7 linked regions of the Homo sapiens genome follow. The protein of the gene in region 2 interacts with the protein of the main gene of each other region in a biochemical or structural test. Each region holds a gene or a part of one and is shown on either strand. Other genes may lie near its edges.

Region 1 (3,867 bases), on a different chromosome or scaffold from region 2:
TAATTTAAAGACTCCACTTTAGAGATACACCAAAGCCACCGTTGTTACACAAGTTATTAAACTATTATAAAACTCTGCTTTGTCCGACATTTGCAAAGAGGTACACGAGGAAATGGAATTGGTATTTCATTTTAATTTTCATGACTACTAACTCACCTGAACTTGCTATTTTAAACAAATAGTTCTGTCGACACCTAAAATATAATCTGGCTTCTTGTGTCTGGACTAAGTTAAAAGAATTAAAATACTTTGTAATGTCCTGGGCTTTGGGAAATGTTAACCACGTCCTAACTTCTAGAGAACGTTACTAAAATATAACATACTGATTGTGAAGTCAATCCACAGGTCATGAAAATATAAATCAGACTCTGCACGAGAGTCTGATTTAGGGGGTCCAACAAATACTCTGACAGATGCAAAAGGAACCTCTGGTCTCATTTCTGCCAGAATCCTCTTTTCTCCCCTAATATCATCCTTATTCTGATGCTCGTTCATCACTAACACACCCACAGAAAGGAGGAAGCGGGATGGGTCTTATGCCCAAGGATTTGCACTTTGTGTTTACTTCCATTCCTGGGAACTAAAAGCAACATCAAAAGAAATGCCTAATGGCTGGAGCCCACAGGTGTGCACCACAGGATTTGCCTGGTGTGTGTCACTGATTTCTTCATTAAACGTAATTTAGATGGTCAAACACAAACCCAAGTGGCTTATTTCACCCCTACTGCTGCTTGCCACTGCTTCCTTCTTGTAAGATTTCTTTGAAGAGGATCAGTGACTTTGACATCAGAACTCACCACTGGAGCCTACACAAGTTTGCAGATACCTTTCCCTGCAGGAGTGGTGACTTCACATCTTTCTGTCTCTAAAAATTGTGCAGTGACATTCCGGGCCAAGTCCCTTAGTCAGGGGTTGACAATTCTGCTTTTGGACAAGGAGGGATGTGGAGGGAAGAAGTAATAGTCTACCAGGAAAATGAGACGAAAAAGCTCAGTATGACTCCCTGCATCTGGTACCCCTCTTGAAACACAGTGGGCACATGAGCAATGGCTCAAACGAAAAGTGGATCTAATGTGGGTTTCTCAACCGATGAACCACAAAAGCTTCCAGCTACTATTACAATGTGAAAATTCCAATGATCCGTTTACCAGAGCAATTAGACTATGTTAAAAATTCATATCATTTGTAACTTCTTTTAATTACTGAATTGATATTAAAAACAAAATATGGCTAGGGCATGTCCTATTCTTCTGGGCAAATGTGGATGAAAAGGTCACTTGCTACCTTTGACAACTATGAACATGATGGTTAATCTTCTTTCTTTTTTTTTTTTTTTTTTTGAGACGGAGTCTCACTCTGTCGCCCAGGCTGGAGTACAGTGGCACAATCTTGGCTCACTGCAACCTCCGCCTCCCCTCCGCCTCCCAGATTCAAGCACTTCTCCTGCCTCAGCCTCCCAAGTAGCTGAGATTATAGGCGTGTACCACCACACCTGGCTAATTTTTGTATTTTAGTAGAGAAGGGTTTCACCATGTTGGCCAGGCTGGTCTCAAACCTCTGACCTCAAATGATCCACCCCCATCAGCCTCCCAAAGTGCTGGGATTATAGGCATGAGCCACTGCACTGGGCAGGTTAATCTTCTTTCAAAAGAGTCTGCTCTTTCTACCCAATTGGCGAAGCAAATCCCCAGGATTCACCGAACAAATGGATTAAGCACCCACTGAGTGCCTAGCATGTGCCTGGACACCAGGCCACCGGGAAGATGCTCCCCCTTTGACTTGTCTATGACATGCTATGTCTCTCACCAGATCCCTTCCTGGAGGTCGGGCTTCTGTAACATGGCTCTGCCCCCAAAATAAAATTTTCACCACGAGTCAGGGATCGGCAAACATTTTCTGTAAAGAGCCAGAAAGTAGATATTTTAAGTCATAAGGTCCCTGTTAACAACTACTTGACTCTGCCATTGTAGCACAAAGGCAGCCACAGACAAAACAAGCAAGTAGTCATGTCTGTGTTCCAATAAGACTTTATTTACAAAAACAGCAGGCACAGACAAGATTTGGCCCACAGGCATAGATTCCCAACTCATGGTGGTGAAGTACAGAAAAAAACACCTGTCTACAAGCTTTTGTAAGAAATCAGGCTAAATGTTACCTATGTTTTGGTTGGAAGATTTCTTTGGTTTGAGGAATGCTTTCCTCTTGCATTGGCATGCCAAGAGGATAGATGACTCTGAAAGACGCCTCTTCAGACATACCTGTCATCACACAAGATCAACTTCTTCAGTTTAAATGACACAAATCCATATTGTGGAAGGAAAATATGTAGTGCCTTAGCTTCACTAATAGTTGTAAAACTTCTTTTTAAGACATCAAAGGCTAGAGGATTCATTTTATGCAGTGCGAACATCTAATAACACTCTCTGTGTCAAATATATATTGTACATTACCTTAAACTATTGTAATAGCTAGGTAAAAATCCTTGTATAAAAGAATGTTTTCCCCCACACAAAGGGCAGAGTATTGAGCACTAATTTCCTATTAAAAGTATATATATGTATCTGTGGGTCACTGGTGTCCAGACTTGTATTTGCATTTGTGTTTACTTGAGGAACTTGAACACTAACAACTGGTAAAATCCCATTGTAATTCTTACAGCATTTTGACTTTATTTTCCTGCAGTGAATTGTGTTGTGTAAAGATTAGGGCTTTAAAATCTTATTAGCAAGCTTTGTTTTGTTTTAATTATTGTTGCTGTTGTAACTAGATTTAATTTATTTTTAGTTGGAGGTTTGACCTAAGTCTGGACCAATTGATTGCTTTTCAATACAACTTTGCAAAGAACTTCCTTTTTCCACAGGTGGCTTTGTTCGATTAAAGTCTACACTAATAAAAATAGCTGAACTTGTTAAACTTTTTAGCCCCATATAACAGTGCAGGGAAAGAGTCATCCACCTATTGTTATTCATAAAACCCAGGAAACTACACCCTCTTACCTTCTGTAGCTACAAGGCTAGCTGCTGGTTAGCTGCTTAAGATTAGAATGTCATCATCTCTGGATGGCTGCCAACTTCTCAAATGCTGAGAAAAATGCTCTGAAAATAAAAAGCAACAACTATTTATTGAACACTTTATATATGTCAGAGGTGGGGATGGATGGGGGTGAGGATGTAGAAAATCTCATTCATCTCAGCGATACTATAAAGTGGGTAATGTCATCATTTTGCAGATGAGGAAACAAGAGTTACTGACTTGTCAAGTTCATGGAGCTGAGGAGTGAGGAATCAGGGTCTGTGGGGACCCAGATCAGTCTGATCCAGGATGTTTCACACACCATGTTTTTCTCTACCCCCAGGCTGACTTCCTTTTAAATTCTTTGCTGTTATTGTTGAGATGGGGTTTTGCTCTGTCACCCAGGCTGGAGTTCAGTGCCGCGATCACGGCTTACTGCAGCTTTGACTTTCCAGGCTCAAGTGATTCCCCCAGCTCAGCCTCCCAAATAGGTGACACCACAGGTGTGTGCCATGCCCAGTTAATTATTTATTATATTTTTGTAGAAGGGGGGTCTTGCCACGTCGCCAGGCTGGTCTCAAACTCCTTGACTCAAGCGCTCCTCCCTCTTCGGCCTCCGAAACTGCTGGCATTACTATAGGCCTAAGCCCGGTCCTTTTATTTATCTATTTATTTTTAAATTTTATGTATTTATTTATTTTTTGAGACGGAGTCTCGCTCTGTCGTCAGGCTGGAGTGCAGTGGCGCGATCTCAGCTCATTGCAACCTCAAGGGTTCAAGCAATTCTCCTGCCTCAGCCTCCCGAGTAGCTGGGACTATAGGCGCGCTCCACCATGCTTAGCTAATTTTTGTGGT
Region 2 (4,464 bases):
TCTCAAAAACAAAAAAAGTGGGTCTCAGGAAAATTTGTGCCATGATATGTTTTCAGAATATTTGCAAGACTTTCTTAAATCTGTCAACATTACTATCTTTTGTAAATAACAATTAAACTATACCCAAAATTTCACCTGCCTTTGGTTGCCATCTTCTGGATGTTTTACTAATATTCTTAAAGTTTTTGTGTGTCTGGACATTTCTTGTGCCGATGAATGGTCGAATCTGTTTTTATATTTTGGTAGAGTAGCTACCCATACTCATGAGAATAAATTGTGAAATTTCTAGTTTTTTTTTTTAACTTAGAGATACATGGAGAAATGAGAACTTGTTTTGTAAATGTGAGTCCATTTTCAGGTGTTGGCATTTTCTTCATTTGTTAACAGGGGAAAGCCTCCTGAAGCTGATGGTGTGGATAGATCATTTGGCGAGAAACGCTATGAACCCATCCAGGCCACTCCCCCTCCTCCTCCATTGCCCTCGCAGTATGCCCAGCCATCTCAGCCTGTCACCAGCGCGTCTCTCCACATACATTCTAAGGGAGCACATGGTGAAGGTAGGAAGTTCGGAAGTAGACATTTTAACACAGTAATGCTTATGAAGTAAAATTCTGGTGGTTTCTAGGCAAAATGGTTTTTACATTAAAAAATACATGCTTGAAACCTTTGGGCTGGGAACAGTAAAAACTAAGAATTTTGTTAAAAGTATGTCTCCTGTTTTTACAAGACCATTATTTTGGACAAGCCTTTTAGCTAAACAGATTTTAATCTATTTTATGCTAGTCTCTAAATCTTCTGGAAGTAGTGTTTGCCAGTATATGTAAAGATGGTTTGTAAAACCTACTATGTTTTATCTCACACACCCAAATAGAAAAGCCATAATGTTTCATATAAAATGTATCCCATACACCTTGACTTTTGCATTTACATACCAGGTAGATCACATATAGCTCCAGATTATTCATCTTAAGAGCTTTGTAACATTTTACCCTCAGCATATAACACAAAGTGGTTATCTCTTCTGCTGTGGACAGGCATTTTCCTAGCACAGACTTCTCTTATTATTCCCTTAGGAGGCACCTCCTTGGGCTTGTGAGTCTTCAAGCAGATGTGTTATAGTTCTGGATTGAGGCTATCTTTTATTAAGATTTTTTTTCACACATGCCCATGTTTACAGATAAAGACAGTTTTAATTCTTACTTTCCAGTCCTTATGCCTTTTCTCTTTTTTTTTTTCCTCTTTTTGAGACGAAGCCTTGCTCTCGCCCAGGCTACAGTGCAGTGGCGCAGTCTCAGCTCACTGCAACCTCTGCCTCTCGGGTTCAGGTGATTCTCCTGCCTCAGCCTCCTGAGTAGCTGGGACTATAGGCGCACACCACCACGCCCGGCTAATTTTTGTATTTTTTGTAGAGACAGGGTTTCATCATGTTAGCCAGGCTGGTCACGAACTCCTGACCTCAGGTGATCCGCCCACCTCGGCCTCTCAAGAGTGCTGGGATTACAGGCATGAGCCACCGCACCTAGCCTTCTTTCTTTTCTTGCTGATTGCACTGGCCAGGACCTCCAATAAACTCTGAAATGTAAGTGGTGAAATTGGACCTCTTTTGCTAGTTCCTGATTTTAAGGAGGAAGGACCTCATGTTTTATCCTTTAGAATGTTAGCTCTAGGATTTTCGTAGATGTCCTTTATCATGTTTAAGACATTCCCTATATTCAGAGTTTGCTGAAAGCAGTCAGATGTTTTTCCTGCATGTATTAAGATGACCATATGATTTTTCTTCTCGTACTGTGGAAAATTATATTACTATATTCATGAGGTATTTGGATTAATAATTCTCCTGTCTTGTAGTGTCCTTAATTATTTCACAGAGTTCAGTTGGTACTGTGTTACACTGTGGCTGGCAGTGCATAAAAAATCCTGTGGTTCCACTTTTTAACCAATGTTTGGCATCATCAGACTTTTCGGTTTTTCCATTCTAGTGGGTGTGAAATAGTATTTAATGCTTTTTGTTGGTTTTGTTTTACATTTTTCTAATTAATAGTGAGTATCCTTATTATATGATTATTGGGCATTCTAGTTTTCACAAAGACTAGTGCCAATCTTTGGAGGCCAGGAATCTTAGCAGCTGGACCCTGACTCCAGGGCAGCAGGGTATATATATTCATGGCACCACCTGTCCATGCTGCCCTCATCCCTCAGCATCACACCTAGCCTCCAGGGCTCAAGAGTCAGGCTCTGGCTGTGCGACCCACATTTGGGCCTCGACTCCAGCACCAGGACAAGTTAAGCTGGGACAGGGCTATTATAACTTTTTTCAGAAAGTTATTTAAATGCTTACGTTTGTTTTTCAGGTAATTCAGTGTCATTGGATTTTCAGAATTCCTTAGTGTCCAAACCAGACCCACCTCCATCTCAGAATAAGCCAGCAACTTTCAGACCACCAAACCGAGAAGATACTGCTCAGGCAGCTTTCTATCCCCAGAAAAGTTTTCCAGATAAAGCCCCAGTTAATGGAACTGAACAGACTCAGAAAACAGTCACTCCAGCATACAATCGATTCACACCAAAACCATATACAAGTTCTGCCCGACCATTTGAACGCAAGTTTGAAAGTCCTAAATTCAATCACAATCTTCTGCCAAGTGAAACTGCACATAAACCTGACTTGTCTTCAAAAACTCCCACTTCTCCAAAAACTCTTGTGAAATCGCACAGTTTGGCACAGCCTCCTGAGTTTGACAGTGGAGTTGAAACTTTCTCTATCCATGCAGAGAAGCCTAAATATCAAATAAATAATATCAGCACAGTGCCTAAAGCTATTCCTGTGAGGTAAGACTTATGCCTTTGCTCAAAGCATTGGCCCTGTGATTTTTCTCATGTGAGTTTGTTGTAGTTTATTTGACTTGGGACTTTAAAGTGATCTTTTTAACTCAACCTTTAAACTGAAGAGTGTTGTTGCAATGAATGCTGTTACATAGAAGGTCCTCCAGGAGGTACAAGATGTTGGTAAAATAATAAAGCTAACAGTCGTGTATGGTTGGTAGGTATTGTCATCATCCCTGTTTTACTAAGAACTGAGGTTGAGTGACAGTAAGCAGTTTGCCCAGGGTCACAGCTAGAGTGAGGTGAGCCTCAATTTAGCTGCTGGTCATCCGACCTCTGAGCCCATGCTTTTTTTTTTTTTTTTTTTTGAGACAAGAGTCTCCCTCTGTCGCCCAGGCTGGAGTGCAGTGGTGCGATCTTGGTTCACTGCAACCTCCACCCCCTGGGTTCAGGCAATTCTCCTGCCTCAGCCTCCTAAGTAGCTGGGACTACAGGTGTGTGCCACCACGCCTGGCTAAATTTTTTGTATTTTTAGTAGAGGTTTTCACCATGTTGGCCAGACTGGTTTTGAACTTCTGATCTCAAGTGATCCATCCGCCTCCACCTCCCAAAGTGTTAGGATTACAGGCGTGAGCCACTGCACCCAGCCAGGAGCCCATACTCTTAACCAGCCATGACCTTTTGTAACCTCCTGACCTACTGGTAAGGTGCATGTGGAGGACATCTAAAAACATTAAGTATCTATGTTCCTCATTCATTATTTGTTCCACAATGATGCTAAGAAGAAAAATAGAATAACCTCTGACTGTTTAAAGAGCAGCAGTTAGTGAGATGGCTGAGCAAATGAGACAAAGTGAGCCCACCTGGAGCCTCCCTGCAGCTCCTCTTTCCTGTCTTTCATTCCACGGCGATTGACCAGATGGATTCTGGCCATACATAAAAGCTCATCTCAGCCTCCTACAGCCAGTTCCATTTTCACGCCACCATAAAGCAGAAGCACTTGCAGGCAGGGAGAACCAAAGGTCAGGATGGCCACCTGAGTCTGCTTTCCAAGAGAAAGGATGGTTATGGCGGTCACTGCCTTCCTAGCTCTGCACATCCACAGATGGTCAGGGGCGGACAGAGCTGGCCTCTGCTCTGCAGCTCAGGCTGCGCTCTGCTCCCTTGATGTTGTGTCGTAGGATGTCGTCCCTGGCACTCCGGTCATGCTGGAGTGAAACGGCAGCTACCTTCATGTAATTCTGTTTCGTTGGTCTTTCTGCTCACCTTTGAGCCCTGGCTCAAAACTGTACTTTCAGGAAGTTGATAGCCTCTACTTTTGAAGCAGTCATTGATACCACATCCCCTTTGCCTTTGGCGTTCTGTGATTACTAAGTTAATCTACTGTCTCTCTTTCGTGGATGTTTGGGATATGCCCATACAAGGGTCTTCGCCTCATGGAACCTTGGAAGCCTTGCCTCCTACAGCCAGAGCGGGCGCTTGGTCCTCAGGGAATGCTGAGGCAGGACCATACTCAGGCACACTTAAAATCCTAGGGAGATTTTATCAAGTCTGAGATGCTGTCAGCCGTGAGATGCACCATTGTTTTGTGTCACTAAAAATGGAAGAACAGCCAGGCACGGTGGCTCATGCCTCTAATCC
Region 3 (4,464 bases), on a different chromosome or scaffold from region 2:
AGAGTCCCCTTTTCCATGATGCTGAGAGCTGTGCACACTGGCATTAGTAATTGGAGAAGTAGTTATGAGTGCAGGCCGCAGGCTCCGGAGCCAGGCACACGGGCCTGCAATCTGCATCCTCTACTTAGTGGTTACGTGACTTGGGGAGGTTATTTGCTGTCAACAAGCTTCAGTTTCCTTGTTTGTAAGATGTGAATAATGATATTTGATGTAATGCATATAAAACACCTAGCACAGGGCACAGAGCATACATTTTAGTGTTCTTGGGCTGGTATTTTGTGTGTCTTAAATATAAGAAAGAATTTTGTGACACCCTTTAGATACAGGGTAACAGAAAAAGAAAAAAAAAAAAAAAGAGAGACAGAGACAGATTGGGCTATTTCCTTTAAGGCTCTGCTCTCGGCGTGGTCCTGGACCAGCAGCAGGCTGCATCACCTGGGAGCTTGTTAGAATATCAGAATTTTGGGCCCCACCCAGACCTAAGGAATGAGAGAGTGCATTTTAACAAGACCCCCAGGTGATCCGCATGTGCATTCAAGCCTGAGACGCACTGCTTCAAGGAACACAGGGAGTCAGCGACTTAGCAGGTCTCCTGGTTCCATGGCCAGGAAATTAAAAAATTCAGCCCACTTGTGTAGACAAACAGATGAGATCTTATTATACATTAATCTATTTTAATTGTGGTTAATCACTACAGTCTGCAGGCAAATTCAATTAATAAGAAGAAAGCAACATAAGAAGATGCTTCTTTGTCAGGGAAAATAAAGGCAAGTTGAGCACAACGCCAAGGAGACCACAGGTTTGCATTGCCCTGGGTTAATGCTACTTCTCTAGATGCTCCAAGACACTGCATCCCTGCAATGCAATATAATTGGAAAGAAAGGAGGTCTAATTTAGAAGAAGAATAAGGCAGCGAGGAAAAAGAAAACATAAAAAGATGCTCCAACAATAATGTTAGGAATTTCACTTAGATATTTCTTAAATTTTTGAGTTTAGGAGAGAGGAGGAAGAGAGTATAGGGCCACTATTATAAAAATACTGCTCCTTATGGGATGCGCTTCCTGAAGTTTCTAGTTTATTCATCTAACTAACCTCCTATCATGGGCAAGTCTGCTGTACAAAGAGTTGTGATCGCATGAATATTATGAGAAGGGTTAGAAAATGTTAGCATCCACTCTTCCCATTAGGGAGGTGACTGCGGCTGGGGCAAAGGTGTGCTATAAAGTCACAGCAGGCGGCCTGGTGCAGTGGCTCATGCCTGTAATCCCAGCACTTTGGGAGGCCGAGGCAGGCAGATCACCTGAGGTTGGGAGTTTGAGACTGCCTGACCAACATGGAGAAACCCCGTCTCTACTAAAAATACAAAATTAGCTGGGCGTGGTGGCACATGCCTGTAATCCCAGCTACTTGGGAGGCTGAAGCAGGAGAATCGCTTGAACCTGGGAGGCGGAGGTTGCGGTGATCTCGGCTCACACCACTGCACTGCAGCCTGGGCAACAAGAGCGAAACTCCCTCTCAAAAAAAAAAAAAAAAAAGTCACAGAAGGCTTTGGGATATCTGATTACATATTTTGATTTTGCCCTTTCTCTCTGGAAGTGGTGTGACTTAGGGATATCGATGGGACTAGGCCTTGGCAAACGGCCTCCTCAGCAATGTGCCCAGCTCACCTATCTATCTCTGACTGCACTGGGGAAAAGGAGTATAGGAGTGAATTGGTCATGGGGAAATACCGCTGAATACCCTCAGGATGCTTGTAGGCCGTGTGGGGGATGTGTCTAAAGCAGCCCCACAGTGAGCCTTGTTGGGACAGCGTTCCATTGGCAGTTCCCCCTTTATAAGAAGAATTTAAACAATCAAACCTTGGGACTGGGAGTCACACTTTGAGGAACCGGGTCGCTCATTCATTCCCTTCTGTGCTGGACACTGGTTGCATCAGTGATGCAGTGAGTGGAAAGACTTCCTGTACATGGTGCCTCAATTCTCCTCCAAACTCCAAACTGGGGCTGATACCAAGTCCATTACCGACAATTTCTTCATGTTTAATGTGGACTCAGTTCTCAGCCAGCTCTCTTTGTGTCTGTCTACGGGTTTCAAATCACTTGTGACATGGACAGTGATGTTTCTAGGACACCTCTCCCTGAGCTCTTAGGGTGGAGCTGACCAAGGCCCTGGCCTCCTGGGGCCCAGGTGTGCTTCTGGAACACAGCAGGTTCCAGAAGGTGGGACTCCATGAGGGTGTGTCAAGGCTGGACCTGCATGGCCACGTGTGCCTGCGAGAAACTCCAAGGCACTCTGAGGCGTGCAGCGTGAGCGCTTGTCCTTCTTCACAGTACCAGGGAGGCCCTTCCAGGAACGGCTCCTCTGAGGAGCCAGGCTTGGACTGACACCGTGTTTGTTTATCTAAGACATTTTCACAGCATATTCTCCTTAAGCTTGACAGCTTGTTTACAATGGGTTTCTGCCGCAGGGCAGTTTCCAAGTGCTGTCAGCTTCTGAATTACGGCTCTTGCCAGGGCCGCTCAGCACAGCATTTATCTGGGACGGAGTTATTCTATATTCAGTAACCTATTGCTGAGCTGACTCCACAGCACGTTTTTCACACCAGTCAAAGGGGGAGAGATGCCTTCTTTCCCTCCTGCTACTTTGCATTCTATAAAGGGCAGGGGGAGGGTGGAAGCTGGGGGAGCAGGGAAGCCGCAGGAAGGAGCCTGGGGCCAACACTCTGCTAGGTGCTTGCATGTATGTTCTCAGACGTTATCTCACTTACTCTTTGCAATAACCGATTGACCTAGCGGTTATCAATTATTTCCTGTATTTTTTTGTACAAGAGGAAGGATGAACAGAGAGGTTAAGTATCCTATTTGAATTTACACTGTTATTAGGGTGATAAATCTTGGGTTTAAACACAGGGCCCTTGGATTCTAAACGCATGCATAGCACTGCCCGTGAGAAACATTTCTGGAATGAAGTATGTTACCATTTTCCTGAAAGAGCCTAGTCTAGGTACCTTTTCTACCCAAACCTTCCTTTCACCTGAGATGGGAGATGAAACGAGGTCACATCCATTTTTTCTTGAGATAACCTTTCTTTTCTTCCTTTCTTCCTTCTTTTCCAGCCACCTATCACCCTGTTTCTTTCTTGTTAGATAAGTGTATGCTTTACAAAGCAGGATTTCAGAAAGGCCTTACATTGGTTTTGAAAGCCCAGCATTTAAGCTCACTTCATCCATCCTTCATCATAGGCACTCTTCTAAAAAAAATTATAGACTAGAAAACCTCTAAACATGGCAAGAACTTATATTATTCTCCAAAGTACTTTCCCATAAACACTTTGACTTAAATCTCATAACACCAGGGGAATTTGGCAGGATGGGCATTACCACTATTTCCACTTGACAGATGAGGACACTGAGCCTCACAGAAGCCAAATGACTTTCCCAGGGTGGTGCTGTTGACCAGGAGTTAGATAGTGCTGCTTAGACTCCTTCATTTCTTATTTCTAACCCTCCTCCCATCACAATGGAAGCTACTGGAACAGCTTCGTTGCCTGATTCAAAATGAACCAGGATGAACTTTGGAAGCGTAGACTTTTTTTTTTTTGAGATGGAGTCTCACTCTGTCACCAAGGCTGGAGTACAGTGGCACGATCTTGGCTCAGTGCAACTCTGCCTTCTAGGTTCAAGCAATTCTCCTGCCTTGGCCTCCCAAATAGCTAGTATTACAGACATGCACCACGATGCCCAGCTAATTTTTGTATTTTTAGTAGAGACAGGGTTTCGCCATGTTGGCCAGGCTGGTCTCGAACTTCTGACCTCAAGTGATCCGCCCGCCTCAGCCTCCCAAAGTGCTGGGATTACAGGCATGAGCCACCGCGCCCAGCTGGAAGCGTAGACTTCTAAAGGAAGCAATAATAGTTTTGCTTGGGGCTTCACTAGCCTGGGAACAGAATGTCTAAATTAACCATAAGACTCAGATAAGTTCTTAGCATTAGAACACTCCCTCTTTACTGAAACTGAAATGTATCTCCTTACTGTTTGAACACTCTCACTGGAGGGGAGGCACAGAGCTGGAAGAGCCATATGATGAAGAAGAGGGAAATGAACAGGGTTGTGGGAGTGGCAGCTGGAGGAACAGGGTCTGGGAGACACAGAAAGGGAGGAAGTATGTGCTAGAAGCAGCTTCCACATGCTGACACTGTGCTATGGGATATGGGAATGGTACACTTTAGACAGGAAATACATATTGAATAACAGTGGAACGTGCTCAGATTAGAAACGAGCAGGCACAGGAGAGTAATGCCAGGAAGCAGGGGGCCCAGCTTCTGAAAATATTCTAGAAGACAGTGATGTCCTTCCCTGCAGCTCCCAGAGGAAAGCATAAGGAGAGAGATCAAATGTTGCATTTTGTGGGTGCTGTCAACTGGTACTCAAGCGATCAACTTACTGCATGAAGTTAAAAGTTAAAA
Region 4 (4,464 bases), on a different chromosome or scaffold from region 2:
TGATTGCTCTGCCAGTCTTGAAGCTCAGAAGGGTCTATCCTGGAAATTCAGATTTGGGAGGGTCAGTGGATGGGTAGTAGATTAAGTTATGGGGGCAAGATGAGTTTGCTCAGGGACAGAGTGTTAATTGAGAAAAGGATGGACTTCTGAGGAATACTCACATTTAAGAGATGAGTAGGGAAAGAGAAATCTTGAAGAAGGCTAAAATGGAATAGCCAGATTGTGGTGGGTTGAAAAATTAGTGGGTTAGTTCGGGCACGGTGGCTCATGCCTGTAATCCTAGCACTTTGGGAGGCTGAGGCAGGTGGATCACTTGAGCTTAGGAGTTCAAGACCAGTGTGGGCAACATGGCAAAACCTGGTCTCTACAAAAAATACACACACACACACACAACTAGCCAGGTGTGGTGATGCGCTCCTGTAGTCCCAGCTACTTGTGGGGCTGAGGCAGGAGGATCACACACACACACACACACACACACACACACACACACACAACTAGCCAGGTGTGGTGATGCGCTCCTGTAGTCCCAGCTACTTGTGGGGCTGAGGCAGGAGGATCACACACACACACACACACACACACACACACACACACACAAACTAGCCAGGTGTGGTGATGCGCTCCTGTAGTCCCAGCTACTTGTGGGGCTGAGGCAGGAGGATCACTTGAGCCCAGGAGGTCGAGGCTGCAATGAGCCGAGATCATGCCACTGCACTCCAGCCTGGGTGCCAAAGTGAGAACCTGTCTCAAAAAGAAAGAAAGAAAAATTAGTGGATCAGAGGGTCTTGTAGAGAATGGGGAGGTGTGCCCTTGACCCTTAGTGTCCTGAATCTTGGCAACACCGAGGGCTCCTTGAACACGGCAAAATCTTATATGGCTCTGAGATTCCAAAGCATTGACTCAGATACCTGCCTCATGCAAAGCCCTATATTCTAGAGCAGTTTCCCTTTCCTCTGTGGCAGACTCTTGTCCCCCCTAACAGATGGCCCAGGGAATTTCAGGGCCCCCTCTCAGTCCTGGAACCCTTGTTCCAGAGTGCTCCCTCATCATCCAAGAGGCTGATGATGGGAGCATCTATTAGGAGACTGGACAGGAAATGTCTGGGCATGTTATACATGCAGGAGGCCTTAGACTAGGCTGCAGAGGGGGATTTGGGCATGGCTGGGAGGATCTGAACTCTCAGAGTATGGACAGAAGGCTTTGCTGCCCACCCCCATCTACCCTGGAGTAGATTTTCACCATGGGCAGAATGATCCAGGGCTAGGCCACTACTCTCTAGGCCCCTGGAGATTCAAGAGGCCTCTAACAAACTGGAGTCCAAGACTACATTCTAGGATCTGTTCCTCCTGATGTAGTCTGCAGTTTGGCCTCAGTCTGCAATTGAGGGGCCCTATGGCACTGTTGCTTGGCAATGTATTAAACAGCAGGCCTTGGAGACTAGCACTTGAGTTAACACAGCCACCACAACCACCACTGCCATCATCACCTTCCCGGAAAGCAGCCACCTGTCTGGCTCCTGGCTTTGTCCAGCTGCCAACCTAAGGCATGTGCCTACGCAGGAGGCGATGACATTTTGGCTCCACGTTCAAAGTTGTTTTTTTTTTCCTTTCTCATGTGTTATTTCTAAAGATAACAAAGGTCAAAAGGCATCCAGCGTTTTCTGGTTTCTCATAAGCTTCTGGTCAATATTTAATCTGGTTTATGGATTTTTTTTAGGTCTTCTAGATGCCTTCTTGAGGCTGCTTGTGGCCACCCACAGACACTTGTAAGGAGGAGAGAAGTCAGCCTGGCAGAGAGACTCTGAAATGAGGGATTAGAGGTGTTCAAGGAGCAAGAGCTTCAGCCTGAAGACAAGGGAGCAGTCCCTGAAGACGCTTCTACTGAGAGGTCTGCCATGGCCTCTCTTGGCCTCCAACTTGTGGGCTACATCCTAGGCCTTCTGGGGCTTTTGGGCACACTGGTTGCCATGCTGCTCCCCAGCTGGAAAACAAGTTCTTATGTCGGTGCCAGCATTGTGACAGCAGTTGGCTTCTCCAAGGGCCTCTGGATGGAATGTGCCACACACAGCACAGGCATCACCCAGTGTGACATCTATAGCACCCTTCTGGGCCTGCCCGCTGACATCCAGGCTGCCCAGGCCATGATGGTGACATCCAGTGCAATCTCCTCCCTGGCCTGCATTATCTCTGTGGTGGGCATGAGATGCACAGTCTTCTGCCAGGAATCCCGAGCCAAAGACAGAGTGGCGGTAGCAGGTGGAGTCTTTTTCATCCTTGGAGGCCTCCTGGGATTCATTCCTGTTGCCTGGAATCTTCATGGGATCCTACGGGACTTCTACTCACCACTGGTGCCTGACAGCATGAAATTTGAGATTGGAGAGGCTCTTTACTTGGGCATTATTTCTTCCCTGTTCTCCCTGATAGCTGGAATCATCCTCTGCTTTTCCTGCTCATCCCAGAGAAATCGCTCCAACTACTACGATGCCTACCAAGCCCAACCTCTTGCCACAAGGAGCTCTCCAAGGCCTGGTCAACCTCCCAAAGTCAAGAGTGAGTTCAATTCCTACAGCCTGACAGGGTATGTGTGAAGAACCAGGGGCCAGAGCTGGGGGGTGGCTGGGTCTGTGAAAAACAGTGGACAGCACCCCGAGGGCCACAGGTGAGGGACACTACCACTGGATCGTGTCAGAAGGTGCTGCTGAGGATAGACTGACTTTGGCCATTGGATTGAGCAAAGGCAGAAATGGGGGCTAGTGTAACAGCATGCAGGTTGAATTGCCAAGGATGCTCGCCATGCCAGCCTTTCTGTTTTCCTCACCTTGCTGCTCCCCTGCCCTAAGTCCCCAACCCTCAACTTGAAACCCCATTCCCTTAAGCCAGGACTCAGAGGATCCCTTTGCCCTCTGGTTTACCTGGGACTCCATCCCCAAACCCACTAATCACATCCCACTGACTGACCCTCTGTGATCAAAGACCCTCTCTCTGGCTGAGGTTGGCTCTTAGCTCATTGCTGGGGATGGGAAGGAGAAGCAGTGGCTTTTGTGGGCATTGCTCTAACCTACTTCTCAAGCTTCCCTCCAAAGAAACTGATTGGCCCTGGAACCTCCATCCCACTCTTGTTATGACTCCACAGTGTCCAGACTAATTTGTGCATGAACTGAAATAAAACCATCCTACGGTATCCAGGGAACAGAAAGCAGGATGCAGGATGGGAGGACAGGAAGGCAGCCTGGGACATTTAAAAAAATAAAAATGAAAAAAAAACCCAGAACCCATTTCTCAGGGCACTTTCCAGAATTCTCTCATATTTGTGGGCTGGGATCAAGCCTGCAGCTTGAGGAAAGCACAAGGAAAGGAAAGAAGATCTGGTGGAAAGCTCAGGTGGCAGCGGACTCTGACTCCACTGAGGAACTGCCTCAGAAGCTGCGATCACAACTTTGGCTGAAGCCCCTGCCTCACTCTAGGGCACCTGACCTGGCCTCTTGCCTAAACCACAAGGCTAAGGGCTATAGACAATGGTTTCCTTAGGAACAGTAAACCAGTTTTTCTAGGGATGGCCCTTGGCTGGGGGATGACAGTGTGGGAGCTGTGGGGTACTGAGGAAGACACCATTCCTTGACGGTGTCTAAGAAGCCAGGTGGATGTGTGTGGTGGCTCCAGTGGGTGTTTCTACTCTGCCAGTGAGAGGCAGCCCCCTAGAAACTCTTCAGGCGTAATGGAAAATCAGCTCAAATGAGATCAGGCCCCCCCAGGGTCCACCCACAGAGCACTACAGAGCCTCTGAAAGACCATAGCACCAAGCGAGCCCCTTCAGATTCCCCCACTGTCCATCGGAAGATGCTCCAGAGTGGCTAGAGGGCATCTAAGGGCTCCAGCATGGCATATCCATGCCCACGGTGCTGTGTCCATGATCTGAGTGATAGCTGCACTGCTGCCTGGGATTGCAGCTGAGGTGGGAGTGGAGAATGGTTCCCAGGAAGACAGTTCCACCTCTAAGGTCCGAAAATGTTCCCTTTACCCTGGAGTGGGAGTGAGGGGTCATACACCAAAGGTATTTTCCCTCACCAGTCTAGGCATGACTGGCTTCTGAAAAATTCCAGCACACCTCCTCGAACCTCATTGTCAGCAGAGAGGGCCCATCTGTTGTCTGTAACATGCCTTTCACATGTCCACCTTCTTGCCATGTTCCAGCTGCTCTCCCAACCTGGAAGGCCGTCTCCCCTTAGCCAAGTCCTCCTCAGGCTTGGAGAACTTCCTCAGCGTCACCTCCTTCATTGAGCCTTCTCTGATCACTCCATCCCTCTCCTACCCCTCCCTCCCCCAACCCTCAATGTATAAATTGCTTCTTGATGCTTAGCATTCACAATTTTTGATTGATCGTTATTTGTGTGTGTGTGTCCGATCTCACAAGTATATTGTAAACCCTTCGGTGGGTGGGGGCCATATCCTAGACCTCTCTGTA
Region 5 (3,500 bases), on a different chromosome or scaffold from region 2:
GAAGGAAGCAATGGTTCAGAAAGAAAAAGCAGCTCCTGAGATTACTAGGAAGCTGGAGAGACAGAAGAGACCCAAGGAAGGAAAAGAAGCAACTGGCGGCCCTTGCCCTGGTGTCAGAAGACAGCAGCTGTAGAGGGCTGTGAGGAAGGAGGGTGCTGCTGAGAGAGCTCACACACCATTCACACCCATTCACACCCATTCACACCCTTCCCTGGGCAAGTGTGTCCTGCCCTTGGCTGTCTCCCAGGAGTCCTCATCCTGGAGTAGTGAAATGGTTGAAAACCCCCAAAAGAAGCAAAAGCCAAAGCCCCAGGGGTCTCCTCAGGAGAATAAAATGGGAGACTCGTCTCTCCAAACCCAAGAAGAAGAAATCTTTCCCAAGGAGGAGCAGGCTAGTGGTGATCCTGGGGAGACAGCTGGCAGCATGTCTTCCCAAGGTGGAGGCTGGGTGCGGTGGCTCACTCCTGTAATCCCAGCGCTTTGGGAGGCTGAGGTGGTGGATTGCTTGAGGTCAGGAGTTAGAGACCAGCCTGGGCAACATGGCGAGACCCCCATCTTTACCAAAAATACAAAAAATTAGCCGAGTGTGGTGGTGGGTGCCTGTGGTCCCAGCTTCTCGGGAGGCTGAGGTGGGAGAATTGCTTGAGCCGGGGTTGGGGTTCGGGTTCACTGGAACTTGAGGTGGCAATGAGCTGAGACTGCGTCACTGCACTCCAGCCTGGGTGACAGAGTGACACCTTGTCTAAAAAAAAAAAAAAAAAGATGAGGACGTAATCATCCAAGGAGGAAACAGTTAGTGACCCTGAGGGAGAGGCAATAGGAGCATTGCCAAGAAAAAGAGGAGATTCTCTTCCAAGGAGAAACCATCAGCAATGGGCCTGGAGAGGCCACTGGTAGCAAGATCAGCTCCAAGAAGAAGAAAAAGACCCACAAACAGGCCAGGCGTGATGGCTCATGCCTGTAATCCCAGAACTTTGGGAGGCCAAGGAGGGTGGATCACGAGGTCAGGAGTTTGAGACCAGCCTGGCCAACATAGTGAAACCCCGTCTCTACTAAAAATACAAAAATTAGCCAGGCGTGGTGGCATGCGCCTGTAGTCCCAGCTACTCAGGAGGCTGAGGCAGGAGAATTGCTGCAACCTGGGAGGTGGAGGTTGCAGTGAGCTGAGATCACACCACTGCACTACAGCTTGGGTGACAGAGTGAGACTTTGTCTCAAAAAAAAAAAAAAAGAAAGAGTCCCACAAACCATCCCAGGAAGATCAGAATGAACATTTCCTGGGGGAGAAGCATGCCCCCAAGGTGGCATTTTCCAACCCTACACCCCAGTAAAAACAAATTCATGAGCACACACACAGAAAATAAATAGCATAATAGAAGCTCAGGAAGTGTGTTAAGAAGAAATAGAAGCCGGGCACAGTGGCTCACGCCTCTAATCCCATCACTTTGCAAGACCGACAAGGCGAAACCCCATCTCTGCCAAAAATACGAAAATTAGCCAGGCATGGTGGCATGCACATGTAATAGGCTACTTGGGAGGCAGAGGCAGGAGAATCAGGAGAATCACTTGAACCTGGGAAGTGGAGGTTGCAGTGAGCTGAAATTGAGCCACTGCACTCCAGCCCAGGTGACAGAGCGATACTCTGTCTCCAGAGGAAAAAAAAAAAGCAATAGAGGAAGGGACAGGGAGCAGTGCAGGAGGCCTTCTGCTTCTGAGAGTATGGTCAGGGAAGGCCTCTCTGAGGGATGTTACTAAGCTGAGGCCTGGGAAGGTGCTTGCCAGGGAGCAGGGCAAAGGCCTTGGGGCAGGGAGGAAGTGGGTGTGTCTAGGAGTCCCCAAATGTGCATCATAGCAGTTGAGGGGGAGGCAGGGCCAAATCACTTGGGTCTCAGGTCAAGTTGAGGAGCTTAGATTTCATCCATGAACATGGGATACCATTAGCAGATCCTAAGCAGGGGAGACACCTGGGTGGGCACTATGGCTGTGTCAGAGAGAGGTTGGGGCCAGAGTGAGAACAGAGGTGAGAACCAGGTGGCTGTTTGGACGAGAGCTGGCAGTGATAGCAAAGATGGAGAGAAGTGGGTGAATAAAAACATATTTTGTCATTGATGGGTTGAGGACCATTAGGCAGAAAGGTATTTGCCAACATGGAAAGGTGTTCATGATATATTGCTGTGTGGATAAAATAGATTGCAAACAAATGCATATATTATTCGTCTGTTAAAAAATGCACTGAGCAGGCTGGGCATGGTGGCTCATGCCTGTAATCCCAGCACTTTGGGAGGCTGAGGCTGGTGGATCACCTGAGGTCAGGAGTTCGAGACCAGCCTAGCCAACATGGTGAAACTCCGTCTCTACTAAAAAAAAAAAAAAAAAAAAAAAATAGCCAGACGTGGTGGTGGACAACTGAACTGTAATCCCAGCTACTTGGGAGGCTGAGGCAGGAGAATCGCTTGAACCTGGGAGTTGGAGGTTGCAGTGAGCCAAGATCATGCCATTGCACTCCAACCTGGGCAACAACAGTGAAACTCCATCTCAAAAAAAAAAAAGAAGCACTGAGAGGCTGGGTGTGGTGGCTTATGCCTGTAATCCCAACACTCTGGGAGGCTGGGGTGGGAGGATCACTTGAGGCCAGGAGTTTAAGACCAAGCTGGGCAACACAGTGAGACCCCTACTCTATAAATTTTTTATTTATTTCTGTTTTATTTTTATTTTTGAGACGGAGTATCACTCTGTCACCCAGGCTGGAGTGCAGTGGTGTGATCTCGGCTCACTGCAACCTCCACTTCCCAGGTTCAAGTGGTCTCATGCCTCAGCCTCCCCAGTAACAGATTACAGGCAAGCCACCACGCTTGGCTAATTTTTGCATTTTTAGTAGAGGCGGGGTTTCGCCATGTTGGCCAGGCTGGTCTTGAACTCCTGGCCTCAAGCGATCTGCCTCAGCTTCCCAAAGTGCTGGGGTTACAGGCATGAGCCACCACGCCCGGCCTACAAAATTTTTTTAAAAAATTAGCTGATGGTGGCCGGGCGTGGTGTCTCACGCCTGTAATCCCAGCACTTTGGGAGGCCAAGGCGGGTGGATCACGAGGTCAGGAGATCGAAACCATCCTGGCTAACACAGTGAAACCCCGTCTCTACTAAAAATACAAAAAAATTAGCTGAGCGTGGTGGCGGATGCTTGTAGTCCCAGCTACTTGGGAGGCTGAGGCAGGAGAATGGTGTGAACCTGGGAGGCAGAGCTTGCAGTGAGCCGAGATGGCGCCACTGCACTCCAGCCTGGGCGACAGAGCGAGACTCCGTCTCAAAAAAAAAAAAAATTTTTTTTTGCTGATGGTGGCATGCCCATAGTCCCAGCTATTTGGGAGGCTGAGGCAGGAGGATCACTTGAGCCTGGGAGTTCGAGGCTGGAATGAGCCATGATTATGCCATTGCACTCCAGCCTGGGGGACAGAGTGAGACCCTGTCTCAAAAACAAAACAAAACAAAAAAGCATTGAGAAC
Region 6 (4,464 bases), on a different chromosome or scaffold from region 2:
GCTGAGCAGAGCTGAGGGGCGGGGATGGGGAGACCCAAGGTGGGAAGCGTTGTGATTGGGACCCCGTAACTGGGCAAGGGGTCCCCAGGGCCATGAGGGGTGGTGATAGTCTTTTGGGACACTGAGGATGGGTTGGGCAGGGACTAGGTTGGGAGAGCACGGAGTGCTTCAGGGAGACAGGGGGATGCGGTTTTTCTCTGATATTGAGGGGCTCTGTCATTATGGAAGGGGCAAGGTGGGAAATTAACAGGGCCTGTAGGGAGGAGGAGGGGATGGGTGCCAGGACTAGGCCTGGGAGGGCCCCCCGGGGCCCCCCAGTGAAGGGGTAGGCTCTCTGGAAACTGATGGTGATTGGCCAGGTCTATGAGGCAGGGGGTCCCCAGGAGATGCAGGCTGGGATCAGGTTGGGGAAGGAAGTGGGCAGGGGATTCCCCAGAGGGTCTAAGGTGTTTGGGTGGGAGATGGGGTTTGGTTGGCTCTGGCAACGGGGAAGGGAGGAGGGCAGGAGCGCCCAGGGGGGCTGATGGGTGTCGAGGGAGTGGAGGGGCCAGGTCCCTCCTCACTCTGAGTATAAGTGGGCCATCGAAGGGGACGCGGGGGTCTCGAGAGGCCTGGAGGGTGGTGAGGGTAGAAGGGGCAGGCCTCCCTAAACCCTGACTGAGTGAGCCCTGAGCTGGGGTGGGGAAGCCCACAGGGCATCCCCAGGGAGCCTGAAGCAGGGAGAAAGGCCCGGTGGGGTGGTCCCAGGCGCAGAGGGTGAAGGGGCGGGCTCACCCGGCAGCAGGTCGGGCGCGCCACCGCGGTGCACCAGCAGGCTGAGCTGCAGCACTAGCTGCGGCGCGCTGCGCAGGAAGGTCTCCAGCAAGCGCAGCATGCTCACGTCGGCGCTCTCGAACAGCATCTGCCAGTAGAAGTGGCGCCGCAGCCGCTCCCCGCGCCAGCGGCTCTGCAGCCCCAGGTACAGGGCGCGCAGGTACCTGCGGGAAGGACGCGGTGCTCAGGCTCCCGCGCGCTGGTTCCTCTCGCTCTGTCGCACCAGCCCCGAGCCGCCCACAGGCGCAGGGGGCAAGTCACTCCCTACGCTGAGCCTGTTTCCTCAGCTGTGAAATGGGCATTTCGAAAGGATCACCTTATGAGGCTGCTGTTGAGGAGCACTGAATGGACTCATTAGCTTAGAGAGAGGACTGGCACTAAGTAAATAAAGCCTTTAATACAACAGCGGTATCGCCCTTATTCCTATAACGGTTGGGGCGTGCTTTCTTTGGAGGGTTACTGACACCTTGGAGTGCGCTGAGCTTACAATAGCCCTGTTACCCGACCCTTACTTTGTTTTATTTTAGAGATGGGGTCTCATTCTGTCACCCAGGCTGGAGTGCAGTGGTGCGATCTTAGCTCACAGCAACTTCAAACTCCTGGGCTCAAGGAATCTTCCCGACTCAGCCTCCTAAGTAGCTGGGACTGCAGGCATGTACCACTACACCAGGCTAATTTTTAAATTTTTTTCTGGCTATGTTGCCCAGGCTGGTCTTGAACTCCTGGCCTCATCTCAAGTGATCATCCTGCTTTGGCCTCCCAGGGTGCTAGGAATACAAGCATGAGCCACCGCACACGGCCCAATTCCCATTTTGTAGGTGAGCAAACTGAGACCCAGAGAGATATGTCATTTATCCAAGGTCACACAGCTAGGAAGCAGTAGAACCAGGACACAAACCCAGCCATTCTGGCCTCAGGGCCGGCACTCTAACCATTAGACAACACTGCCTCTGACTGTAAACCATAAAAAGTTTTGCTCACATAGGTTCCTTCCAGGAACAGTCCCTACTGCCTGGTGCCAGCCCCGGTTCTGTTGCCACCAGCAGCTCCCTGGCCTGTTCCCTTCTCAGTGCCCAGATGAGGTGAGATCCTCACAGCTCAGTGCCCAGCTCTCACCCCAGGGTGCAAGGAAGGTGCTCACAGACACTTTTCCTTGGCATCTGAAACTGCTGCTTCCTCTCATGCCACTTCTCCCAACAAACTCCGGCTCTTCTTGGCCACTCTGCACAGGTCACAGAGCCAGAGCTCACAATGTTCTCCCTCCTTGCTGAGGAATTGTACCTATTGTTTCCTCTCCCTAAAACACCCTGCCCTATCCCCTAACCCCATCCCGGCCCCAACCCGGGATGACTCTTGCTTTTCTTCCAAGGCTCAGCTTTTGAACACAATTTTGTCCATAAAGCTTCCGCTGACCACCTTCCACCTAGGGTAAGGGCCTCTCCCAGGCTTCCGTCTAATCTAGCTAGCACTTGTCACAGTGGGTTGTAACTGCCTGGTTATGTGCACATCTCCCCCATGCTGTGAGTACCTGGAGAATGACTAGGCTGGCTTGCTAAGTGCTGCATCCTCAGTTCTTAGCACACAGTAGGTGCTTAATCTATATGGGCTGAATGAATGAAAGTGTGCTTAATCTATATGGGCTGAATGAATGAAACACGACTGCAGGCTTGTTGAACTGAATGGAACTCTAGTAACCCTATAGGGGGTATAGAAGGGACTCTGAAGTCCTGAGATCAATCCCACTTTGCTTCTAATTTACTGTGTGATCTTGAGCAAGACCCTCTCTGAGCCCTAGTTAATCCCTCCCAAAGTGGCGGTGAGGATTAAATGAATGAAAAGAAACTTTGCACACTATGAAGTACAGTGCCCATGTAGGGTGAGAGGGGAACTCTCCACACAGATCTCTGGGTCTGATTTCCCTTCTGCCCTGGTTCCTTGCCCAGAAGCTCTACTCCTGCAGCTACAGACCCTGCCACCTTCCCAGCGCCCCCTACTCCCGCCGGCTCCCCAAACTCTCTGATTCACGGGGCAGGCACACTCTTTGCTGCAAACCAGAGGACTCTTCCAAAAGTGGCTTTCCCAGGAAACTGGGGGTGGTGTGTGTGTGTATGTGTATGTGTGTGTGTGTGTGTGTGTGTGTGTGGAGGGGGAACCCTTACACAGATTCTCTGACCCCGCTGCCTGGATCTGAAACTGGGGAGCCAGAGATTTGGGGTCTATTCCCAGGGTGAAGCGCTGGCATTTCCAGGATGTTGTTTGGGAACCAGGGGACTCACTCTATTCACAGCCCAAGGGAGGAAGTCACAGTTCTCCCTGGATGTGGGGCCAGCTGATACCAAATTTCCTCAAATGAGTATACTGGTCTTACCAGCTGTGTGGCCCTCTCAAAGCCTCAGTTTCTCCATCTGCCAATGAAAGGGATGAGTTTGATGACTCTGGAGATCCTTTCAGAGTGAATATTCTGGGACTCTCTCTGCAAAATGAGGCCAGGAACATCCCATTTAGGACCCTCCTCCCCATCCCTGGGTCATCCTGGCATCAGTCTATGGCATAAACACACCATCAACATAACACATGACAGGATTGGCAGCCAGGATGGGTAAGGGGGCTGTTCCCTCAGAAGCTGACTCTGGAAATGCAAAGCCCCCTCTGTCCAACTCTCCTGTGCCATGCTGGAATTCCTTCAGTCATTTCCAGCCTGGTGTATCTATACCCACTGCTCACACGCTGCCCAGGACAGGGACCTCAGCCTGCTGCATCTACACTCACTGCTCACACGCTCCCCAGGACAGGGACCTCAGCTTCTGAGCAGCTCCAGGTCTGGATTGTATTTCTTCTGATAAGCAGAAATTTGTCTCCCTGTATCTTCCATTTTCTGGACTCCTGCTTACCCCACACATAAGGATCCCTGCAGCCAGAATGATTCATTCATGTAGCAGGTGGATTCTGACCACCTGCTCTGTGCCAGGCTGTGTGCCCATATGTATCTCCCAGTCCCATGGAAGAGAGACAAGATAGGAAGTGAAATAATGCTATAAGATGCCTTGGAAGGAAGAAACATTTGATCTCAGTTTTTTTGTTTGTTTTTGTTTTTGTTTTGTTTTGTTTTGTTTTGAGACAGAGTTTCGCTCTTGTTGCCCAGGCTGGAGTGCAGTGGTGTGATCTCGGCTCACCACAACCTCCGCTTCCAGAGTTCAAGCGATTCTCCTGCCTCAGCCTCCCGAGTAGCTGGGATTACAGGCATACGCCATCATGCCTGGCTAATTTTGTATTTTTAGTAGAGACGGGGTTTCTCCATGTTGGTCAGGCTTGTCTCAAACTCCTGACCTTAGGTGATCCACCCGCCTCAGCCTCCCAAAGTGCTGGGATAACAGGTGTGGGCCACCACGCCTGGCCTGATCTCAGTTTTAAAGCATGGGTTGGCATCTGAAGGCACACAAGAGATGGAAGGTCATTCCAGGTGGGAGAATCAGCTGAAGCAAAGGCTCAGAGGCCTGAAAGAATTTGGCATTTTAGGGGAATGGCCAGAGGTTTGCTGGGCCTGGACAAGGGGTTTTAATGGGCAGGGACATAAGGAGACTAGAATTGTGAAGGGCATGAAATTCTGGACTGAAGAGTTCAGATTTTATTCTCTATCTGAATGCCATCCCA
Region 7 (5,064 bases), on a different chromosome or scaffold from region 2:
CACCTCTCACTCATTCTATGCAGTTAGCATTATAATCTATATGAAGAGAATTTTTTAATAATTCTTTGAGGTTATCACTCCTGATGGAATGAGGGCTCTGATGTAAAACTCCCCATTTCTGGTTCTTATATTTTTCTAGTGATTTATCTCAAAGACTCACCGGCTGCAATCTCTTTCCCCTACAAGAATGGGATTGAATTTCCACCTCATGTTAAGAGGACAACAAGTGATTTAGCCAACTCATTGTCACATTTTATACTCCTCCAAGCTAAATGTTTTGGTAAGTAGTAATAAAAATTAAATGAGTTATGAGGCTGAAAAAAAATTCTGATGCACAAGGGGAAAGGAGAGAAGGCAGGAGAAGGGGATTTCGACTGGAACATCCTTTTCAATTTATCTTTATAAAGGACAATCCAGGCAAAATTTGATTTATTTAGTCTTACAATTAAGATCAAAGCAGTTGCATGTTTTATCTTAAATTATCCAGATTTTTACTCCTGTAAAATGTTTGAAAGTTTGGAGGATCATTCCCAAAAAAGTTTCTCTGAAGTCCATTTTATTATGCATCCTGAGAAAAAATTATACTCCCCTAGCTCCAGATCTCTAAACATCATGCTATACACAAATAGTAAAGTTCCATATAAAATGTCAGAGGAAATAAGAGAAGAAAAATATTTGAGCGGTTTCATAAAGTACTGAAGTTATTTCATCTGGGATGAGCTTGGAAAGAGTCTGATTATCCCCATGTTATCTGAAATACTTGACATTCCAACAAAGACAGAGCATGTGACTCCTCTTAAGGGAGCTGGTACTCATCCAGTGACATGGGAGGGAGGGCTTCAGCTGACTTTACGTGGCTAGGATTTACTGGTGGTGAGATAGTGGTTTTGAGGGTTTCCCCCACTTTGATATATAATTGTGTGTTTTCTCCCACATATTTTTTATAAAAACAATAGTTATGTTTATAAAAAAAAGGAAAAAAAACTTCTTACCCTTATAGATCTATGTCAGAGCTAACAGTAGATTCCAACACATGATTTAGGCTAGAATACATTAAATGGACTGACTGTTTTATGATTAGGATGTCATTAGAAAATAATAACATGAAAGGTCTATTTTAAGGTAAACAATTTTGTCACAAACTCCAGTGATCATCTGATTTTTGCCACATTGATCAGAAAAGCTAAAAAATAATTTCAAGTAAACTACTTGAATCTGGAAACACAAAGATGCATGAAATTTTAAATAAGGCATGAATTTTGGAACTTTGGATTGGTATGAATTCAGTTCTGGTATCTGACTCAGAATTATTCTCATTTTATTCCAAGCTAATTTGACATTACAGTAAAACATGAGAACCAAGTTGAATCCAGTACAGTGGTTCTGTATTGCAGAAAATAGAAAACAACAACGGACCTCTTAGTTATGATTACATTGCGTGGGGAGCATCTAAAAGTCTTTGATTCTGTTCCTCTTGCTTTATGGAAGGTGTAATATGAAAACATTATGCTCAATACTCTTCCCGGGTCTCAAGCTTCTAGGTCTCAATATTGTAGTGGTGAAAGGCTGCATTCCTTGTCAATACAGGGGAAATAAGGAGGCATTCTGAAAATGCCACTAATATATCTGGAATGGCTCAAATCAGCTCCTAAGAGGACCTGAATATTTTTCTTAACATTTAAAACTGATGCTATACGTTGCTTATAAACAAAGTTGAATTTCCTTTATAAGAATCAAAATGCAAGTTATAAAGCATTGCTTTCTCAAGTTAGTTGCTAGAATTTAAAGAAAAGGAGAGAGTGAAATATTACCTTGCACGTAATATATATTAAAATTTTTTTGAGTCATATGCTTTGAGACTACAATAACTTTATATTTTCTCAGAAGTTACAAATAAAAGTAGACTTTGCACACAAAATATGTTAGTAAATCAATTAACAAATATGAAGGGTTAAATAAATAAGCAATAGAAATGGAGTTAAATAATAAGCAATAAATATGAATTCCAACTTAATAGCTTGATAAAAAAGATGATAGAACTTATTTTGAGTGATTTATATAATGTAAGGTAAAAGAAATCAAGCTAAACCATGTGGGATGGACAATAAAGACAAGATTGTATGAGACTTGTCCAGAAAAAAAAAAGAATCGAGAGTGATCTTAACTTATAATGTGGAAGGCAAGCCAAGCAGAATGTACATCAGCTGTCAGATTGCTTCATGCCTTTTACAGCAGTTGTTCCTCTGAAAATAGCTTCCAAATGAGAAAGGATGACTACAAAAGGATTAGTTACCATAGGCTTTTCTACACCCCCTAGAGCTCCAGGTTTGTTATGACAGAACAGCAAGAATCTAAAGGAAGTAAACTATGGAATATTAAACAACGTCAGGATGGAGCCACATTCATGCTGTGCTATATTAATGCTACGAAGGATTTTTATTGATACCATTTCCATGGACTTCCTTCATGATGGCTGTTGCTTGCTGTTTTCTCTGCTTCATCATAGTATTATGTGATAGCATGGTTTTTTTGTTCCCTGTTAAAAACAAAGGGACATTATTGAGGCAATGTGAAGAACTCATTTGGAGTGTCTTATAATCACTGTTTTGAAAGACAACATCTTTGTTCTTTATTAAAAAGTTATTATCGCTTGCTACTGAAAGACTTCAATACGCATTCCTTATCTGGTGACAGAGTATGTTATTCATTGACAGGCAATGTCACAGTGAACAGAGACCCAGTCTGGACATTAATACAATGATCATCAGGCAGTGAGAAACAATGAAATTGCTGGTCTCCTTTCCCCTCCCTCTCTTTTCTCCACAGTATTTTAGTCTGTCATTGTCTCCTCACTGGCCTTCATTTGTACCAGCATCACACTCCATCAATTCCAGCAAACTGTAAGAATGAAGAAGACACTAGACTAAACCAGAATTCTTTGGTGGTAGCATTTTAATATTGGCAACAGCTGCCCTTTAAAGCAGAGAATGCCCATTTATGAGTCACAACTCTGAATATCCTTGGACAACTGACTAATGAAACATTTTAGGAAACAACATACTCACCTTGCTGTTAGATTGTGCTTTTTCAGCGGGGATGAATCCCAGTTTGTGGAGGAAGACTCTGGAGATGGACTATGGATGGCACTTGGGCCTGATGGTTTTTATCCTTGAACCTGGGACAGCATGGTCCCTACTCTGACTCAAACTGGGGACTGAGCTTTTCTGAAGAGACTGGCATTCAGCTGACATCAACTGGCTATATATAGCACCAAATACTTTAGCTACTCATATCTTCCTGGCGAAAGGGAGGAACAGGGAAAGATTAGGCTCTCTCCATTGTGTTTCTAGTTTGTGAGATGGTTAAATGAAACGTTCATTGGACATGCAGAAAGTTTTTAGTGAGCACTTTCTGTTGAACAGATAGTAGCCAAAAGGGATTTTAAACACTTTTAAACATCTAGCTCTTATGTTACATGTTAATTGAGGTGGCAAGAGACACATGCATGAATCAGAACAGAATGATAGATTTTTCATAATTAAAATGAACAATATAGGCAGTAATATCTATGTAGACTCAAGAAGAAAGGAAGTAATGTGGGGTGGATCAATAGAGCCAGTTCTTAAGCTGTAGTGAGAACTCATGCTAGGTTGAGAAAAGTATGTAGTATTTGAATAGTGAACTCAGGAAGCATTTTGAAATGAACCATTAGAGGATAAGCCATGAAGCTGGGTAAAAGCTGAGACTCATAACTGGGTCATGCTTTTTGAAGGGCCTACAGAGACCAGTCCCTGCAAAGTTGACCAGTCTTTACAATGTCTAGGGTCAAGGATTTTCATTTGCAGGCCTGACAAGATTTGAAAGGTTTGCCTGTCAAAAGGTTTGGCCTCCTTGATGGTCCCTGGACACAAAAACGTGCTCTCATCTCTGGGCTTTTCCTTTTACTGTTTCCCCCTTTCCTTTTACTATTTCCCCCTTTCCCTGGTTGAAATGGTGTCCTCAACAGATAATCATTATGTTAATTTTGGTTTCCAAAATGAAAATAGATACTGTATTCCTTTTACTATTTCCCCCTTCCATACTTTCCCTCTACTCACATGGCACAGTCATGCATTCAGGACTCTGCTCAGATAACAATCCCTCATAAAATCCTTCCCTTATCACCTTGTCTAAAATATCACACTGTGCCACTCTCTAGTCCCTTACTCTGCTTCATTTTCTTTATATTTTTCTATTAGTTAAGATAAAAGTCAAATGGGAGTGACAGAAACCCCCCCAAAACAGAACTGTAAAAAGATGGAAGATGTTTCTCTCACAGGTAAGCTTAGTCTAGAAGTAAGTAATTGAGGGTTTGCATGACTGACATAATTATCAAGGGCTCAGTTACCCTCTAACTTTTTGCTCCACTATCCCTAAAATGCAGACCCCTTGGGCCTAATTGGCTGCCCCAGCTCCAGTCAGCATGCATATATTTCAACCAGCAGGAAAAAGAAAAAAAAATGAGAAGGGAACACTGTCTTCTTTTCAGAACATGTCTGATATTTTGTTCATACTTCTGTTTACATCCCATTGGGCAGAACTTAGCCATATAGCCGTACATAACTCAAGAAAGGTTGGGAAGTGTAGCTTCTATTCTAGGTGGTCATGAGCCCAATTAAAATTCATACATAACTTACTAACAAAGAAATAATTGTTGCTGAGTGACAACTCAGTTTTTTCACTAAGAACATGCCAACATTATTCTATCTATCTATCTATCTATCTATCTATCTATCTATCTATCTATCTATCTATCTAGCAAAAGTTTATGTTATGTACAATTCTAAAGGTTGAAATGGCGTCCTCAACAGTTTTACTAGCACCTGTAATCCCAGCTACTCTGAAGGCTGGGGTGGGAAGATTGCTTGAGTCCAGGAGGTAGAGGTTGCATCTATTTATGTGATATCTCTTTTTTCTACTAAACTATGAATCCTATAATGGCTTGGGCTTTGTATCTTCAGCAGTTGGAATTGTATCTGGCATATGGTAAGCACTCAATATTCATTGAATGAATGAATAAATGAG

What was found.
Region 1: the proteins of TJP1 (region 2) and JAM2 form a complex in vitro, tested with the Homo sapiens proteins (2 studies listed by BioGRID and IntAct, with this or other methods).
Region 3: the proteins of TJP1 (region 2) and MARCHF3 interact in a test that uses a peptide from one of them, tested with the Homo sapiens proteins (one large-scale study listed by IntAct).
Region 4: the proteins of TJP1 (region 2) and CLDN2 form a complex in vitro, tested with the Homo sapiens proteins (2 studies listed by BioGRID and IntAct, with this or other methods).
Region 5: the proteins of TJP1 (region 2) and KIF17 interact in a test that uses a peptide from one of them, tested with the Homo sapiens proteins (one large-scale study listed by IntAct).
Region 6: the proteins of TJP1 (region 2) and XKR7 interact in a test that uses a peptide from one of them, tested with the Homo sapiens proteins (one large-scale study listed by IntAct).
Region 7: the proteins of TJP1 (region 2) and MYOZ2 interact in a test that uses a peptide from one of them, tested with the Homo sapiens proteins (one large-scale study listed by IntAct).

What each region holds. Positions count from the first base shown.
Region 1 is NC_000021.9:25,714,665-25,718,531, forward strand, and holds the end of JAM2 (junctional adhesion molecule B isoform 1 precursor), read left to right. Parts: coding exon 1-8; 3' UTR 9-2,898; downstream 2,899-3,867. UniProt on the Homo sapiens protein: Junctional adhesion protein that mediates heterotypic cell-cell interactions with its cognate receptor JAM3 to regulate different cellular processes. Plays a role in homing and mobilization of hematopoietic stem and progenitor cells within the bone marrow.
Region 2 is NC_000015.10:29,706,924-29,711,387, reverse strand, and holds part of TJP1 (tight junction protein 1), read left to right. Parts: intron 1-387; coding exon 388-557; intron 558-2,351; coding exon 2,352-2,829; intron 2,830-4,464. UniProt on the Homo sapiens protein: TJP1, TJP2, and TJP3 are closely related scaffolding proteins that link tight junction (TJ) transmembrane proteins such as claudins, junctional adhesion molecules, and occludin to the actin cytoskeleton.
Region 3 is NC_000005.10:126,873,070-126,877,533, forward strand, and holds part of MARCHF3 (E3 ubiquitin-protein ligase MARCHF3), read right to left. Parts: intron 1-4,464. UniProt on the Homo sapiens protein: E3 ubiquitin-protein ligase which may be involved in endosomal trafficking. E3 ubiquitin ligases accept ubiquitin from an E2 ubiquitin-conjugating enzyme in the form of a thioester and then directly transfer the ubiquitin to targeted substrates.
Region 4 is NC_000023.11:106,926,332-106,930,795, forward strand, and holds part of CLDN2 (claudin-2), read left to right. Parts: intron 1-1,719; 5' UTR 1,720-1,897; coding exon 1,898-2,590; 3' UTR 2,591-4,464. UniProt on the Homo sapiens protein: Forms paracellular channels: polymerizes in tight junction strands with cation- and water-selective channels through the strands, conveying epithelial permeability in a process known as paracellular tight junction permeability.
Region 5 is NC_000001.11:20,690,508-20,694,007, reverse strand, and holds part of KIF17 (kinesin-like protein KIF17), read left to right. Parts: intron 1-3,500. UniProt on the Homo sapiens protein: Dendrite-specific motor protein which, in association with the Apba1-containing complex (LIN-10-LIN-2-LIN-7 complex), transports vesicles containing N-methyl-D-aspartate (NMDA) receptor subunit NR2B along microtubules.
Region 6 is NC_000020.11:31,991,581-31,996,044, reverse strand, and holds part of XKR7 (XK-related protein 7), read right to left. Parts: intron 978-4,464; coding exon 775-977; intron 1-774.
Region 7 is NC_000004.12:119,133,984-119,139,047, reverse strand, and holds the start of MYOZ2 (myozenin-2), read right to left. Parts: upstream 3,217-5,064; 5' UTR 3,066-3,216; intron 2,537-3,065; 5' UTR 2,523-2,536; coding exon 2,447-2,522; intron 1-2,446.